2 linked regions of the Homo sapiens genome follow. The protein of the gene in region 1 interacts with the protein of each later gene in a pairwise test. Each region holds a gene or a part of one and is shown on either strand. Other genes may lie near its edges.

What was found.
Region 2: the proteins of SFSWAP (region 1) and CFAP20 interact in binary tests that used the Homo sapiens proteins (3 or more experiments, as listed by UniProt).

What each region holds. Positions count from the first base shown.
Region 1 is NC_000012.12:131,706,195-131,714,608, forward strand, and holds the start of SFSWAP (splicing factor, suppressor of white-apricot homolog), read left to right. Parts: upstream 1-4,895; 5' UTR 4,896-5,035; coding exon 5,036-5,253; exon of another isoform or gene 5,254-7,876; coding exon 7,877-8,046; intron 8,047-8,414.
Region 2 is NC_000016.10:58,126,382-58,135,100, reverse strand, and holds the start of CFAP20 (cilia- and flagella-associated protein 20), read left to right. Parts: upstream 1-5,719; 5' UTR 5,720-5,985; coding exon 5,986-6,069; exon of another isoform or gene 6,070-6,217; intron 6,218-8,719. UniProt on the Homo sapiens protein: Cilium- and flagellum-specific protein that plays a role in axonemal structure organization and motility. Microtubule inner protein (MIP) part of the dynein-decorated doublet microtubules (DMTs) in cilia axoneme, which is required for motile cilia beating.

The sequences.
Region 1 (8,414 bases):
AGGCATGGTGGCTCATGCCTGTAATCTCAGCTACTAGGGAGGCTGAGGCAGGAGAATTGCTTGAACCTGGGAGGCTGAGGTTGCCAGGAGGTGGAGGTTGCCATGAGCCGACATCGCATCATTGCACTACAGCCTGGGCAACAAGAGTGAAACTCCGTCTTAAAAAAAAAAAAAAGGAATAAAGTTATGTCATACCAGCAACATGGACAACCTTGGAGGTTATTAAGAGAAATAAGTCAGGCACAGAAAGATAAATACTGTATGTTCTCACTCATATGTGGAGGCTTAAAAAGTTGATCTTATAAAAGTAGAGAGTAAAATAGTGGCTAGTAGTGGCTGAGAAGTGTCAGGAGAAGGGGGCATAGCCAAAGGTTGATTAAAAAATACAAAAGTAGTCGGCCAGGCACAGTGGCTCACGCCTGTAATCCCAGCACTTTGGGAGGCCGAGGCGGGCAGATCACGAGGTCAAGAGAATGAGACCATCCTGGCCAACGTGGTGAAACCCCATCTGTACTAAAAATACATAAATATACAAAAATTAGCTGGGCATGGTGGCGCACACCTGTAGTCCCAGCTACTTGGGAGGCTGAGACAGGAGAATCGCTTGAACCTGGGAGGTAGAGGTTGCAGTGAGCCGAGATGGTGCCACTGCACTCCAGCCTGATGACAGAGCAAGACTCTGTCTCAAATAAATAAATAAATAAATAAATAAATAAATAAATAAATAAATAAAAATAAATAAAAAACAAATACAAAAGTACAGCTAGTTAGGAGGAATGAGTCTAGTGTTCCATAGCACTGCAGGGTGACTATAATTAACAATTTATAGTATGTTTCAAATAGCTAAACGAGCAGATTTTGAATGTTCTCAGCACAAATAAATGATAAATGAGGCAATAGATAAGCTAATTATCTGATTTGATCACTACACATTGTATACATGCAATGGAAATATCACACTGTACCCATAAATATGTACAATTATTATGTGTCAGTTGAAAACAATTTTACAAAACACACATTTGCATGTTTATTCTTAGGTTTTTACAGTTCTTTAATCTTATTTATTCACCTATTTTTTTGAGACAAGGTCTTGATAGGGTCTTGCTTTGTCGCCCAGACTATACTGCAGTGGCACAATCACAGCTCACTGCAGCCTTGACCTTCCACACTCAAACAATCCTAAGTTTCACCTTTTGACCTACACAGACTAATTGTATTACATTTTAATGTGAAGTCTCCACCCTGAAGTGAACTTGGGACCATGTAACATGAATGTTTGCTTACCACACAACCTAGCAAGCCCCTTTCACAAATATTCATAGCTCCTCCTATAACCTATTAAATATGTATGTTTAGCCAACCTGTTTAGCATAAAACTCCTCTCCCACCCTTCTTCCTTCAAAGTGCCTACTTTCTGTCTCAGCCAGAGGGTCTGCTTCCCAGGCTGTGGGTTGCAACTCTTCTCAGAAATAAAGTTCTCCTTTCCAAATTTAAGATCTTGTGATCTTTATTTTGACATATGAGATTTCCCTAGCCGGTTTTTAGTCCATCCCTGAAAGACTGAATGGTTAGATCTTTGATATCTTTCTCAAGTACCTCCCATTTGACCTCAGCCATCCATTTTCAAGTATCACCAGTCCCAGTATCATATGAATAAATTGGGAAAGATCAAGGAATCATGGATCATATACTCCAGGAGAATTTTTTACCTCCAAGAAAATTTCTGGGGGCTTTCCTTTGAAACCTTTCACTGTTGCTCTGAACTCAAAAGATTTCTGAACAAGGCATAACAGTGATTAAAGAAGCAGACTTATTAATCTGAGGGCCTAACTATATAAGGCATTTGTTTAGCTTTCTTTTTGTCTTTGGGGTAGGAAGGTAACTGAGATAAGAAGTTAGGAGATTCTGAGTAGGCAGAGAAGGATAGAAAGATAGAATGTACAGTGAGTTCAATACATCAAAATACAATTTTTTTTCTCATAAATTAGCTGCTTAAGTTTTTCATTTGCTTTTTGTAAGAAGTCATTTAGAAAGGCAATTTTTGGTTCATTTAACCTTTTAGAAGCCTCTGCATGTCAATCAAAATACATCCTTTTGTTTCTGAGGTGTTTTTTGTCCTTTCTTAATATTTTATTTTATTCCTTTCAGACCTAGTCCTGCAAATATCCTTTCTTTTCTAATGTCTTGCAAGTGAACAATTTTATCTAGGTTAAAACTTCCTCACTTTGACCACTGTTAACTCTTAGATTACCTTTGGTAGGTTCACCCATTTCTCTGGAAAAGTGCAGACTCTGGGTTCATAGGTTCTTATACATGAAATTGGCTGGAGTTCCAGGTGGAGGAGTTTCAGACTCCTTGGATCCAAATGAAGGCATCATTCCCTGTATTCTCATACCCTTTCCTACCATAAGCCTCCTACTGGACTCAGTCCTGCTCCCATAGGCCTTGTACTGGATCCAGTCCCAGTTTCTGTTGTAACTTCTGGACCCAGCTCAGATCAAAAATGCTCAAATAAACTTTAAGAATTTGACACAAGTTGTAGAGTTTGTATCCAAGCAGGGCCTACAAGTGGCGGCCTCCAAATGTGCAGTGAGAAGCCCTGAGCACAAATGGCTCAGTGTGTGAAGCAGGCCCACGGGCACTGGTTACCAACCTGTTCTGAATTCTCATAAGCAACAATTTACATGTAGTGCATTTATTACCTATAGACAGGTGGTAGGAGACGAAGACTAGGACTCACTGTGAGCCAATCCCCCCAAAGCTCAGAAAGTTGCCCAGGTGGATGAAATCTCTACTGCGTATTCCTCACTTACACCACAGATAAGAGATCCCGAAGAGCAGCCCACCCAGATTACATACCACATGTCACATGAATCACTGGGCTAAAGTGTTGAAGGACCTTCTATTTCTAGGGGAGAACTGGAACAGAGCCTGGGCTACTTCAGCCAGTCCCTCCCTATCTCAGGATGTTGCATCCCAGCTCGTTATGCAGTTACTCTTGAAAACTACAAAGGAAAAGGAGGGAGAAGTGGGTAGGCCCAAGGCTATACAGAGAACTGTCCTGCACAATGAAGCACCTGCATCTGTTTAGTCACTGTTCCCAGAGGTCATCATTGAGGGAATAGGGGGGCCTTCAGATCCCATTTCTGACACCAGAACTGTTAAAAGAGAAACTTTACACAAAACAAATTCGAGTTTATTCGAGCAAGAAAACAATTCATGAATCAGGCAGCATGCAGAAGCAGAAGAGGTTCAGAGAGTTCCACTCAGCAGCATGAGCAGCAAGCTTTTATAGACCCAACACGGAAGCAGAAAAATTACTTGATTGGGTTTTGGTTTGCTTGCATAGGAGCTGGTGTTACAGAGTTGATCTCAAGCTAATGGCCTCCTTATTTGCTTTAGCACCCCACACCTGAACCCAAGGGAAAGCTTGAAGGGAGCCCAGCACCGAAACAAACTAGTAAATGCCTGGGGGCAAACAACAGTGTTTTTATCAAGTAACCATGACACATACATCTTCCTCAGCAGTGGCAGAGCAGTCTTGTAGAGTTAGATAGGAAGATGATGGCCTGGCCACGCATGCTCAGCTGCTGGCCCGGCTCATTCTACAGGTATTAACCAGTATTTGGCCCACAGTGTGCTAAGCACCATTCTAGGTGCTGAGGATGCTAAGGTGACCCCAACAATGTCCCTGATCTCTTAAAGCTAATTCTGGTGGGATGCTGAACACAGGATGTAACCTAAGGTGGTGATGAGAGGTACACAGACAAATCGGAAGGCACAAGTTAGCCACCAGTGAGGGGAAACTCCAGACAACGTAGACACATAAGGCCAGGTGGAGAAATGGATGACTGAGTTAAACTTGGGTAAGGAGCCTGGCAAATGAAGACAGAAGCATGACCCAGTCAGGGGAAACCACAACAAAAGACGTTTGGTGGGAACTGCCTGTTTCTTAATTTCCAAAAATCAGTTAAAGGTTCATATACATTATCTCATTTCAACATCACTGGTAGAAAGATTCCATTTTTATGGAGAGGGGATCTGAGGCCCAGAAAGGAGACGATCTGTCATCGTTTTCCACTCAAGGGCAAACATGGGGATATCCCATCCCATCCCAAAGCCTAAGATTTTGCACTCCAGGCCCTTTGTCTGACCTGAAATTACTGAGCTAAAAGGGACCGAAAGATCCTAATGGAACCACCGATGGGAAAACTGCGGCCCAGGAGGAAACACACCAAGCAAAATTGCACCGTATCCAGGTGGCCAGTCTCCAGACTGGGGTCTCCCTGCCCCGCCAGACCATCTCCCGGCGACAAGGGTCTCAGGTTTCCGAAATCTCGCCACCCGCGAGTGATTTGCAGCGCAGGGGCCTCTGCTGCCTCGGAAACCTTCAAAGGTGGGCGGGTCGGGGACCAAGTCCCCCTAGGGATGGAGAAGGAAACGGGGCCAAGGAAAAGGACATCGCCACCCTGGGCAGAGCACGCACGGCCCCAGCGACTCGGACATGGTGAGGGGCGCGGAGGCTCGGGGTGGACCCGAGGCCTCCACACATGTGGCAGGCTGCAGCAACCCGCCACCCACGAGGACTCGCCCAAGGCCCAGAGCGCGCCGGGCCCCTCCCTCCGACTCCGTCGCCGCCCGACTGGCCGCAGCGGAAGCCGGCGCGCGATCCCACGCTGCGCTTTCGCCACGTCCTGACGGCTGCCCGATAAAACGGACATTAAAATTGCACTTTCCACTGAATACAGCAGCGCCTATTGTGGCGGCACACCTGAATGCGAAAATTAAAGCCAAAATATTTCCTAGCGGCTAAAAGAGCTCCAAGCCTAGGCGAATCTGCCGGTCCGCTCGCCGGAAATGCGGGCTCTCCTGCCGGAAGCTGCCCCTCCACCATTTTGTGGCCCGCTATGGCGGCGGTGTTGAGGTTGGGTACGGGATGCGGGGTCTTTGACTGAAGGGGTAGGCCAAGTGGAGGTATCAGGGACGTCGCGCGGCACAGAAGAGGACCAGCCTGGACGCCGGGGACGCTGTCATGTACGGCGCGAGCGGGGGCCGCGCCAAACCCGAGAGGAAAAGCGGCGCGAAGGAGGAGGCCGGGCCAGGCGGTGCCGGCGGTGGGGGCAGCCGAGTGGAGCTCTTGGTTTTCGGCTATGCCTGCAAGCTGTTCCGGGACGACGAGCGGGCCCTGGCTCAGGAACAGGGACAGCACCTCATCCCCTGGATGGGGGACCACAAGATCCTCATCGACAGGTCGGTTCCTCTCCCCACCCGTCGATCCTTCCCTTCCCTCACCCGCTTGATCTCGTCTGATGTTGACTTGACTGCAAGGACTGCAGAGAGTTTTCTGGAGCCAGCGGGGATCTGGGGGACACCCCCTCCCCTGTCCCCACCTCCTCCTGGTGTTCTGGTGGGGAGGGGGACGGTGAAACCTGCCCTAAGGCACTGGCTGGAATTGCGTGCCGCGTCCGTCTCCGGAGGGATCGTCTCTGGTCCCGCAGCCCCTCTCGACCCCTCACCCTGTCGCTGGGCTGCAGTTGGCGATTCCGCGCGGTGAAAGCAGCCAGTGCCCAGGGTCTTTTCCTGAGTGCACCTGGGCCTGCCGCCCGGCGATGCCATGGGGTCGTGCGCTGCTTTTCTACTTGCCGCGCTCTCACTGCTCGGTGTACTGGGAGGGTACCCTGGGAGGCGTGCCTTTATTCTTCCGAACCGCCGCTCACTGAGACAGTGGCTAGAAGTGTCTCTTGGACCTGTGAGTTAGCCTTAACCTGTTATGCCCCCAGAGCCCTCAGTGGAGCGCCCGTACTTTGCCGGCATGACGTTTGATTTCCCGGTGATAATCCGACGAGTTTGACAGATTGAGGTAGTGAGCAAAGTTGCCCGTCAGTTGGTGGCCACTTGACTTCGTGCGGACCCTGGCCTTGCTCTTGGAAGAGATAGTGTTCTTAGGGCTGGTTTCACTGTCTCTTAAGACTGAAGGGTGGAGCTGGGATATAGATGTGTTGTTTCTTTTCAAATCAAACCTGCTTTAGGTCGTCACTCGAGGGTGTCTAGCGATTATGGGCAGTGGGGGCCTGGGATTAGGGATTTCTAAAGGCGTTTGATTTGAAAAGGATAACATTACATGATGTAGGTGGTTTGCTCCCCTCTTTCTTCCCATTTTTTCAATCCCCCTTCCCCTCGTCTCTGGGTTTTGGGGTTGTTGTGGGGTGGTTTTTTTTCTTTTTTGCCTGTTCGGCTACTTCTGGGGCCCGGACTGAAAAGCTAACCATGACCAACCATTAAACTGTGGAATAGTCTCTCCACGTGAAGAAAGCCCATCGTTTGAGACCATTAAAACTGGATTCTTCATAGCCCTGGAGCATGACTGTAGGGATGACCTCTGAGCTGGCCAGAATGGACACATTAATGACCAAATAGGCCTTTTTCCATCCCTGACGTTTCCTTTTGGAATTAGAGCTCGAAAACGAGAACTGGTGAAGGGAGGGCCGCGGAATCAGATCATGTCTGGATCTGATGGCTCCGTGCTGTGCTCAAGCGTGCTGTGCCTTCACACCATGGTTTATATTGAATGTGTCGCCTGAGTTGTCAGGCTTGCTTTTCCAAAGTGTCACTTGTGTTATTTATCATTAAAGTTTGGTAAGCAATGAAGTCTGAGCTCTTTGTACAGTTTTCCTATCATTCTGTACATGATTTGAGTTAGGTCTTCCAAAACTGGTGGGGAGCAAACGCCGCACATGTACATGTATAATATTTTTAATAATAATCTACATTTGTAAGTTAAGGAGGTTTACATCAAAATCCAATTAATTTTGAAATTTAATGAAATGCAGTAACTTGACTACCTTGGAATTTTGGGCCTTTTTCCTGTAAATGTCTTTTTTGGTCTACATTAATATTTTTGGTTCCCATTACAAAAGTCAGCATTAAAAAAATAAGCAGACTTTTGTTTGTTTCTCTACATTTGTTTTTGAAACCCTAAACCTGAGTGTTTTAAGTAAAGTTCACTAACTCATTCATTTATTATCTGACAGTTACACGTTGACAGCATCCTCATTGAATCCTTTATGTTAAAAGCATAGCAGAAAGTGCTCCCATTACTTATTTGGCCAAACTACTGTTTGGTCCATGCAAGAGAAACATGGAAGTGTCTTCATGTATGTTATTTCCTTGAGGGTATAAAGTTCAGAAGGAAATATTGATACCATATCTTCTAATAGTTTTGCTCTGTTCCCAGTGAACCTCCTTAAACTGCATGTATATGTCACTGTTCCAATGTATGTGTGTCTCTCTATCACGTAACCCAGCACTTATTTCCTCAGCCAAGTGGCTAGGGGGCGAGCCTAGCCAAGATTTTACCTCCAATGGACGCAAGTTTCTTTGGTGAAGATCTCTCCTGAGAGTTCGGGACTAGCAGAAAGAAGCGAGGAAATTTCGACCGTTTGGTTCTTACGGATAGGTATTTATGTATTTGGTTTGTGTGAATGTAAGCTATGATATTTAACTTTTCAGAAAAAAATAATAATTTTTTGCAAGTGGCATTGAATGGTTGACCAAACCATAATGGTAAGAACTGCCAGTGAAGTGGGTACCATTTTTGCTATTAATGGATTGTTTGCCTTTAGTTATAAATGTTATCTTACTGTGGAAAGGAATTTAGAGTTTGTTAAGATAACTTGAGTTTAAAAGTAGGTGAGATATGACTATCCAAATTAAATATAAATCTGGGAAGAGTTTTTATACTTGTTTTAATATTTTTGTTTATTTTAATCGGTAAGTATGTGTGTGTATATATATATACATATATAAAACATCACACACGCACACCAGTCTAGACGTTAATTTCCTTTTATTGACCAGCTTGTTCACATTACAGATATGATGGACGTGGTCACCTGCATGACCTTTCTGAGTACGATGCTGAGTATTCCACGTGGAACAGAGATTATCAGCTGTCTGAAGAGGAGGCGCGAATAGAGGCCCTGTGTGATGAAGAGAGGTATTTAGCCTTGCATACGGACTTGCTTGAGGAGGAGGCAAGGCAAGGTACTGCTCAAGACAAACTTACTTCAGCAACAAACTTTTTAAAATTTTTAAGTATTTAAAAATTTACTCCCATTCATTTTTTTATACTCACTCTTTCTGATATTATCTTGACAGTACCCAGTGGATTGGAAAAACAGGAGTCTTTGCGTTCTGAGAGGACCTCAGGATAGTTTATATATAGAGCCACAAAGAATTTTCCCAGCTTTTGAGGGCAGACTGGGATTTGAAAAAAACAAAAACCAAACTCTTTAACTGTTCTTCTTTAACAGTATCGTATAAATAAAATTGATGTTCTTGTCTTTGCCGTAACAGTCTTTAATACAGTTCTTAATCCCAAAATTTTCTCAGCAGGAAGAAATTTTCCACAA
Region 2 (8,719 bases), on another chromosome or scaffold:
GCAACATGGCAAAACCCCATCTCTACCAAAAATCACAAAAATTAACTGGGCGTGGTGGGCTGCACCTGTAGTCCCAGCTACTCAGGACTCTGAGGTGGGAGGATCACTTGGGACGGGTAGACAGAGGTTGCAGTGAGCCAAGAGCGCACCATTGCACTCCAGACTGGGCGACAGAGTGAGACTCTGTTTTTAAAAAAAAAAAAAAAAAAGACACACTACAAAACAATACTAATACAATCTAATAATCTGGGTCTTATTGGTGTAAGAACTTTTAAATAGACCAGTGGACTAGAAGAGAGTTCAGGAATAGATACATTGTATATATGGAAACTTAATATAAAATAAAGGTGGCTTCATAAGCCATTCAGGAAAAAATAGTTTACATATGACATTAATGAAACTGGCTTACTCTAAGGAGAAAAATAAAACTGATTTCCTACATGCCACATGCAAATACTATCTTTGGAAGAACTGAAACATAAATACGTAATATAAATCTATGCAGTTAATATGCAAAGGTGACCTAAGGGTGGGTAATAACTTCTTTAAACCTCTAAGTACAAACCATAACACAAAAAAGAAAGGAAATAATTAAATAAAAATTAAGACTTCTGTTCAATGAAGACATTGACAAATGAAATTAACAATTGACAGACTGGGAAAAGATGTTTGCAGTGTCTAAAACCAACGAGGGATTCTTAATACCTAGACATACTATTTTCTATTGCAAATCAGTAAGGAAAAGAAAGGTACCTCAATAGAGACTTGGGCAAAGGATACCAAATGGCAATTTTAAAATAAAGAATGGGCGGGCGCTGTGGCTAATGCCTGTTATGCCAGCACTTTGGGAGGCCGAGGCGGGCAGATCACTTGAGGTCAGGAGTTCGAGACCAGTCTGGCCAATATGGTGAAACCCAATCGCTACTAAAAAATACAAAAACTGGCCAGGCGCGGTAGCTCATGCCTGTAATCCCAGCACTTTGGGAAGCCGAGGCGGGTGGATCACCTGAGGTCGGGAGTTTGAGACCAGCCTGACCAACATGGAGAAACCCCGTCTCTACTAAAAATACAAAATTAGCCGGGCTTGGCGGCACATGCCTGTAATCCCAGCTACTCGGGAGGCTGAGGCAGCAGAATCTCAGGAGGCTGGAAGTTGTGGTAAGCCGAGATCACGCCACTGCACTCCACTCTGGGCAACAAGAGCACAACTCGGTCTCAAAAAAAATAAAAAGTACAAAAATTAGCCAAGCATGGTGGTGGGCACCTGTAATCTTAGCTACTCAGGAGGCTGAGACAGGAGAATCATTTGAACCTGGGAGGCGGAGGTTGCAGTGAGCTGAGATTGCACCATTGCACTCCAGCCTGGATGATAGAGCAAGACTCCGTCTCCAAATAAAATAAAAATAAAAGAAAGAAACTTAAATGCCTATGAGGAGATAAGCCAGCATGTTAGTAATCAGACAAATGATAAATAAAATGAATTGTCATTGTATACCTATCAGACTGGCAAAGTTCAGAAAGTGAAATAACATCCATTATTGGTGGTTGGATGTGACTGCAGAGATCCTCATGCATTGCTAATGTGAGTGTAAATGGGTACACTATTTTGGAGAGCCATTTAGTCACATTACACGTTGTATATGCATAGATGAATACCTAGAAATTCTGTTACTGCATGTGTATGCAAAAGAAATTCTCGGCCAGGCGCGGTGGCTCACGCCTGTAATCCCAGCGCTTTGGGAGGCCAAGATGGGTGAATTACCTGAGGTCAGGAGTTCGAGTCTGATCAATATAGAGAAACCCCGTCTCTACTAAAAATATAAAATTAGCTGGGCGCGGTGGCACACGCCTGTAATCCCAGCTACTCTGGAGGCTGAAGCAGGATAATCACTTGAACCCAGGAGGTGAAGGTTGCAGTGAGCCAAGATTGCGCCATTGCACCTTGCACTCCAGCCTGGGCAACAAGAGTGAAACTCTGTCAAAAGAAAGAGAGAGAGAGAGAGAGAGAAAGAGAGAAAGAAAATTCTCATATAGGTCCTTAAGAGGACAGGTATAAGGATGTCCATTACTGCAGGCATGGACAAATAAAATGTGGTTGGGGCACACCTGGAAAACTGAGCAGCAGTTACAAGCAATGGATTAGATGCACACTGGTACAATGGATGGATCTTAAAAGCCACAGTGCTAAAGAATGTGCTCAGTATGTGTCTATTGTATCTTTATACATATATAAATATTAGAGATGGGCTAGAGTGCAGTAGCTATTCACCATCTTCATTATAGCAGCACTGCAGCCTCTACCTCCTAGGTTCATGGGATCCTCCTGCTTCAGCCTCCCCAGTAGCTAGGACTACAAGTGAGCCCTGTGCCTGGCTTTTTTTTTTTTTTTTTTTTTTTTTTTTGAGTCAGAGTCTTGCTCTGTCACCCAGGCTGGAGTGCAGTGGCATGATCTCGGCTCACTGCAACCTCCACTTCTCAGGTTCAAGTGATTCTCCTGCCTCAGTCTCCCTAGAAGCTGGGACTACAGGTGCCCACCACCACAACTGGCTAATTTTTGTATTTTTAGTAGAGGTGGGGTTTCACCATGTTGACCAGGCTGGTCTCGAACTCCTGACCTCAAATGATCCACCCACCTCGGCCTCCCAAAGTGCTGGGATTGCAGGCATGAGACACTGTGCCCGGCCGGTTTTTTTTCTTTTTCTTTGTAAAATGTGTGCTGCTTATTTTTATTTTATCTTACTTTTTTGAGACAAGTCCCACTATGTCGCCCAGGCTGGTCTCAACCTCCCAGGCTCAGGCGATCCTCCTGCCTCAGCCTCCCAGTTAGCTGAGACTTACAGGTGCCGCCACTGCGCCTGGCTGTGTCTGTCTTAAAACAAAACTTCCATGAATGTCTGTATGTATTTTTTAACAATTGGATTGAGGAAGGGGAATGACTTAAGTCAAATGGATAGGTGAGGATGGCAAGACAGGAAGACATGAACAGACAATACACAAAAGTACACAATTATTTCTGAATAATGGCATTATGAGTGATCATAATGTTATTTTGCACAGTTTCCTCAATGAACTTAATATTAGATTACATTAATCAGAAAAAAGTAAACTTGGCCGGCCGCGGTGGCTCATGCCTGTAATACCAGCTCTTTGGGAGATGGAGGGTCACAAGGTCAGGAGTTCTAGACCAGCCTGGCCAACACAGTGAAACCCTGTCTCTACTAAAAATACAAAAAATTAGCTGGGCATGGTGGTGGGCGTCTGTAGTCCCAGCTACTCAGGAGGCAGAGGCAGGAGAATTGCTTGAACCCAGGAAGCGGAGGTTGCAGTGAGCCAAGATCGCTCCATTGCACTCCAGCCCGGGTGACAGTATGAGACTCTGTCTCAAAAAAAAAAAAAAAAGAAGAGAGAAAAGAAAAAGAAAAAAAAGTAAACTCACATAAAGTAATTAGACTCAGAACCTTTCTGGAGGGGAGCAATCACAACCTTTATTTTCCTCTATGATTATTGTTTATTTGGTTTTCTAGTTCTAGACCCAAAATTGGTCACTTTTTTCCTAGAAAATAATTTATCTCATACAGATTTTCAAGGGGGTAAAGTTGTGTGTAGCATTTGAATAATCATCGTAATAACTCTTCTACAGTCAATTCTTTCTTTAATATGTCTGCTTTTCTTAACTGGAATTTTTGCCTAAGATATTTTTAACAATTTAATAAAAATCAAAGGATACATTGTTCATCAGTCTAAGGTATAGCCTCTCCAGAAATCATCCAAAAATGACAGTTTCATATAAAAAGTTTTTGACTTTCTACAGTAATAAGATTCATATATTTTCTCACTATGTCCAGAAATTCTGGCTGGATTATTTAGGGGGCTGATGTGAGGACTGAATGAGTTAATACATGCTAAGGTGTTAATATATAGTGCCTGACACATAGTAAATGTTCAACTTACTGCTATAATGGACAAAAACTGCTAATAATGATGATATTAGCTACAGACTCCTTTTCTATCAGCCATACCACCCAGCACAGGCCTAGGCAAAAAATACAATATTTAGGTAGATGCTCAGTGACTATGTCAACATTTGAGATTTCCCTTTACACTCAAAATGTAGCTTACTTTATGTTTTCTAAAATATTCTAGGTATTAATTAATTTATTAATTTATTTATTTTGAGACGGAGTCTCACTGTCACCCAGGCTGGAGTGCAGTGGCGTGATCTCAGCTCACTGCCAGCTCTGCCTCATGGGTTCACGCCATTCTCCTGCCTCAGCCTCCCGAGTAGCTAGGACTACAGGTGCCCGCCACCACGCCCGGCTAATTTTTTGTATTTTTAGTAGAGACGGGGTTTCACCGTGTTAGCCAGAATGGTCTCGATCTCTTGACCTCGTGATCCACCTGCCTCAGCCTCCCAAAGTGCTGGGATTGCAGGCGTGAGCCACCGCGCCCAGCCGTATTAATTTTTATTTTTATTTTTCAGAGACTGTGTTGCCCAGGCTGGAGTGTAGACCAGCCTGAGTTTGAGACCAGCCTGAGCAACACAGTGCAACCCTGTCTCTACAAAAACAAAAAATTAACGCAGGCATGGTGGCCCACGCTTGTAGTCAGCTACTCTGGAGACTGGGTGGAAGGATAGGCTGAGCAGGGGAGGTCGAGGCTGCAGTGAGCCATGATCGCGCCACTGCACTCCAGCCTAGGTGACAGAGCGAGATCCTGTCTCAAAAATAAATAAACAAATAAATAATAAAATAAAAATCAGCTGTTGGTTCAACTCAACTTTCTTAATTTTGTTTATGAATGTCTGCCTTTATCTTAATGTTCAGGATTATTTATTTATTTGAGACCGGGTTTCGCTCTGTCGCCCAGGCTGGAGTGCAGTGGCGTGGTCTCGGCTCACTGCAGTCTCCTCCTCCCGGGCTCAAGGGATCATCCCACCTCAGCCCCCCAAGTAGCTGGGATTACAGGCGCGCGCCACCACGCCCGGCTGATTTTTGTATTTTTTTGTAGAGGAAGGGTCTCGCTTTTTTGCCCAGGCTGGTCTTGAACTCCTGGACTCAAGCGATCCGCCTGCCTCGGCCTCCCAAGGTGCTGGGATTTCGGCCGTGAGCCACCGCGCCCGGCCTAATCATGTTCGGGCTTTCTTATTTTCTAATCAATGTATTTAAGGCGATACATTTTCCTCAGAGTGTCGCTTTGACTGCATGCCACAATGTGAATAATGACAGGCAGGGATGTATATTAGGCGCTTATCACAGTTAGTGCTGAATATTGGTTAGTTCCCTTTAACCTTATCCTGTACTTGGCCGACAAGCATGTGTTGGGCGTCCGCCCGACGCCAAGAAGCTCTTTTTCAAAGCCGCTTTCCCTGCGCAGCCCCTGTTCTCCCGCGCGGGCAACTACTCCCGGCCTGGCCGTCACGCCCCCTCACGTCACTCACCGCCCCGCCACGTTCTCATGACACCACGCAGGTGCCAGCAACGAACTCCAGAACCCTCCGTGCCCTTCCGCTTTTCCAAAGGCATCTCTGGGACGACGGCAAGAAAAATAGTTCCTTGACAACTGAGCTCTTTTCAGGAGGAGGCGGGACCAGGCGGGACTTACAGGCGGAACGAAACGGAAGTCCGTGGTCCTTGTAACGGGATTGGGCCCCGCGCTCCCGGGGGGCGGGCTCAGATGGGCGGAGGGATTCATTTTAAGCAACGGGCGGCCCTCCGCCTCCATTGAAGGCGGGGAAATACCGCGGCGCGGACGGTAGTTGCTGTGGTTTCCGTTCTGAGCTCGCAGCTTAGGAGCTGAAGATCGCGGACTTAGCGTTGCCGCGTCCGAGTCCGGCCATCAGTGGCTGCAGATCCGGAGGCCAGGAGCTCAACCACCCTTCTTCGGAACAGGGCCGGCCTGCTGCTGTGCCCTCGACGCTCGGTGCCTGTATCTACTCCGGGGCCTAGGTCGGCTCCGGGGGCGGCTTAGGAGAAGGCCGCCGGCGAGATGTTCAAAAACACGTTCCAGAGCGGCTTCCTCTCCATCCTCTACAGCATCGGCAGCAAGCCTCTGCAAATCTGGGACAAAAAGGTCGGGCTAGGGGCGGCGACGGGGCGGGGTGGAGGGGCTGCACCCCCTCCTCGTCCGGGGGCTGGGGACGGGGAATGGTTGTGTCGAATTGGGGCCTGGGAGAGGCCGAGAGGACGCTGCTGTGCCTTGTCCCCAGCCTGGCGGGACTGGGGCGCGAGGTGGGGGCGTCGTGTAAGCAGCGGAGGAGGTGGGGGGGGGGCGGTGCATGTGGGTGGGCGTGGCTGAGATCTAAGTGTCCTGCAGCTGTGGTGTGGTTAGGACCGCGACCCTCGCTGCTGTCTTGACTTGGTCGGTCAGTCCATTCTTTTGAGCCACTGTTTCCCCACCAATATAATGGGGTTGATGGTGCCCATCTCGTAGCATGAAATGCACGAACTTATTTGAAGGAGCTTTGGGGATGTAAAGATGAAAGGACCTGCTATTCACGAATTCCAAATATTTACTGATATCCGTTTTTGTGCCAGGCACGGTGCTGGGCACTAGACACAGAGCCTTTGTTCAGGCACCCTTACAGAGGAGCAGACAGAAAGACTCCGGCCAAGCCAGTGATGTTTAAATTGCATTCATTTGCTCCCTTCCTCCCACTGATCCCAAATAAGTCAGAATTCAGTGGCCCTTGGCACCTGCTCCACACTCACTGTGACTTGCCTGTACTATGCCCTCGGTGCCTGATTTCTCCATCAGGAAAACTGCAGAATGCTGACAGTCAAAGTCTTGTTTGGATTAATAAACTCAGAGCCAAGTACAGGCCTCATCTTTATTCAGGCATCCACTAGATGATATGTGTTTGGCCCCACGAGATGATGAATCTGTTTTTTGCAGATGTGAAGAAAGATCTAGCTGTCTATGAATTGGTCTGCATTTTATTACTTTGGTATTTCGTTCTTCATGCAAATTCCCAGGCAATCAGCTGTACTATTTCTTGAATATAAGTTACGGGAGGCACTCCAATGTGAAATTTAAGTCATATTCTTAGTACTGCTCTCTGGGAGAATGGCGAGTGTGGGTATGCCGAATGCTGCTTTTTAGAGAGATGCATGTGGAATAATCTCAGTAGGATTTATTGGTAATGAAGCCAAGAATTTTGAATTTTATCTTGGAACACGTCTCTGTATTCCCTTATCCACACATGAGAGCTCTTTATGAGGGCCACATAAAGTTGGGAGAGAACATGAGCAGCTTTCTGCCTGTCACCACTAGGGAACTCTGCGTTCTGAGGGCAGCTTTTAGGATGGTGTGTCCATAGTGTTACTTTCATAAGATAGTTGAAAAATCTGAATATAATGAAGTTGGGCCTTTGTGTATGTAAAATCTGCCCATCTCTTCTCTTTCAGATGATTCTATCCACAAGCTAGAGCTAGTGCCAGAGTACAGGAAAGCAGTTCCTTAACGTTGCTGCGTTACTGAGGTTTTTAGTTTCATGTATTTTTTCACAATGGAATAAAGCATTGTAAACTGTAAATTGCATCTGTACAAAGAGAGCCCAGGGTGCCTGGGAACTCCGTAAGGAGGTTGGCTTCCCAGCTGTCACTTGACTCAGTTATGGGCTGTCAGAAGGCATGAAGAGAGGGGGGCCCTCTGTGCCAGTGGAATTTGGAAACTGAATTGTAACAAAGTGTCAGTATAAGGCAATTGAAATCGAGAATGGGACTTGACCTAGGAGGAGAGGTTTTCAGAGCAGATAGAGAACTTACTAAAGCTGAAAGAATTCCAGTAGTAGGGAGGCCTCAGAATTTCTGTTACGAAACTTGTATCAGTTTTCCATTTTAACCCTTCTGGGCTTGATCTTGTGTGCTGTGTTTTATTTTTCAAATGAGGCTTTTTGAATAGTCAACATGTTTACCCAAGAATATAAAAGCATAGTAACCATGGTGCACTGTGTCCCTTAACAACGCCACTAGAGGTCGGATGGTACCCTAATGACATAAACACGTGTGAAAACATTGTTAAATCGATTGGCATGGTTACTTGGAGTAAATTAAACAGACATTTTGGCAAAACCTTTAGAACACTCATTTCAAGCAAAATCTTCACAACGGTAAAAGCTAATTTTGTGTTTCTAACTCTTCTTATTTAGACTCAATTGAAAAATATTTAGAATTGAGGATTTTTCCCCTCTTGGGGCAAGGGAAGGAAAGAGAAGAAAAAGGAAAGTTTGGGGCCGTATCCCTCAGCTTTGTCGTGTGTGCTTTTTCTCAGCTATGTCTGCATAAAGTGCTGGAAATTCAATCCAGTAGGGGGAACACTGGGAATTGATGTACTTATCAAAGATTTATTGAGCGACAGCTTAGTGACAGGCTTTGTGTAGACTTGGGAAGATAGAGAAAATATTTTTCCTGCTGCCAGGGACTAAGGCAAAGTTGTAATAAGGACAGAGTTTGTGGGGAGGTGAGGACTGTCTACATTTAGCTAGACATGACCTTGACTTTTGCCAGTAGGTATATATTGACTGTGGTACCTATTTATAGTTATTTTTATTTCAGAAAACTTTGTTGTTTTCTTTCATGAGTATATATAGAGAGAATTTCTGTTCGGTTTCTATGAAGAATCTTGAGAAATTTGGTTTGACTTTTGTTTAGGCTCTGTCTGCATAGAAGTGAACGCTGTATTCACAGTACCAGTGAATTTGCAAGCTTCCCTTTTGTGAAGA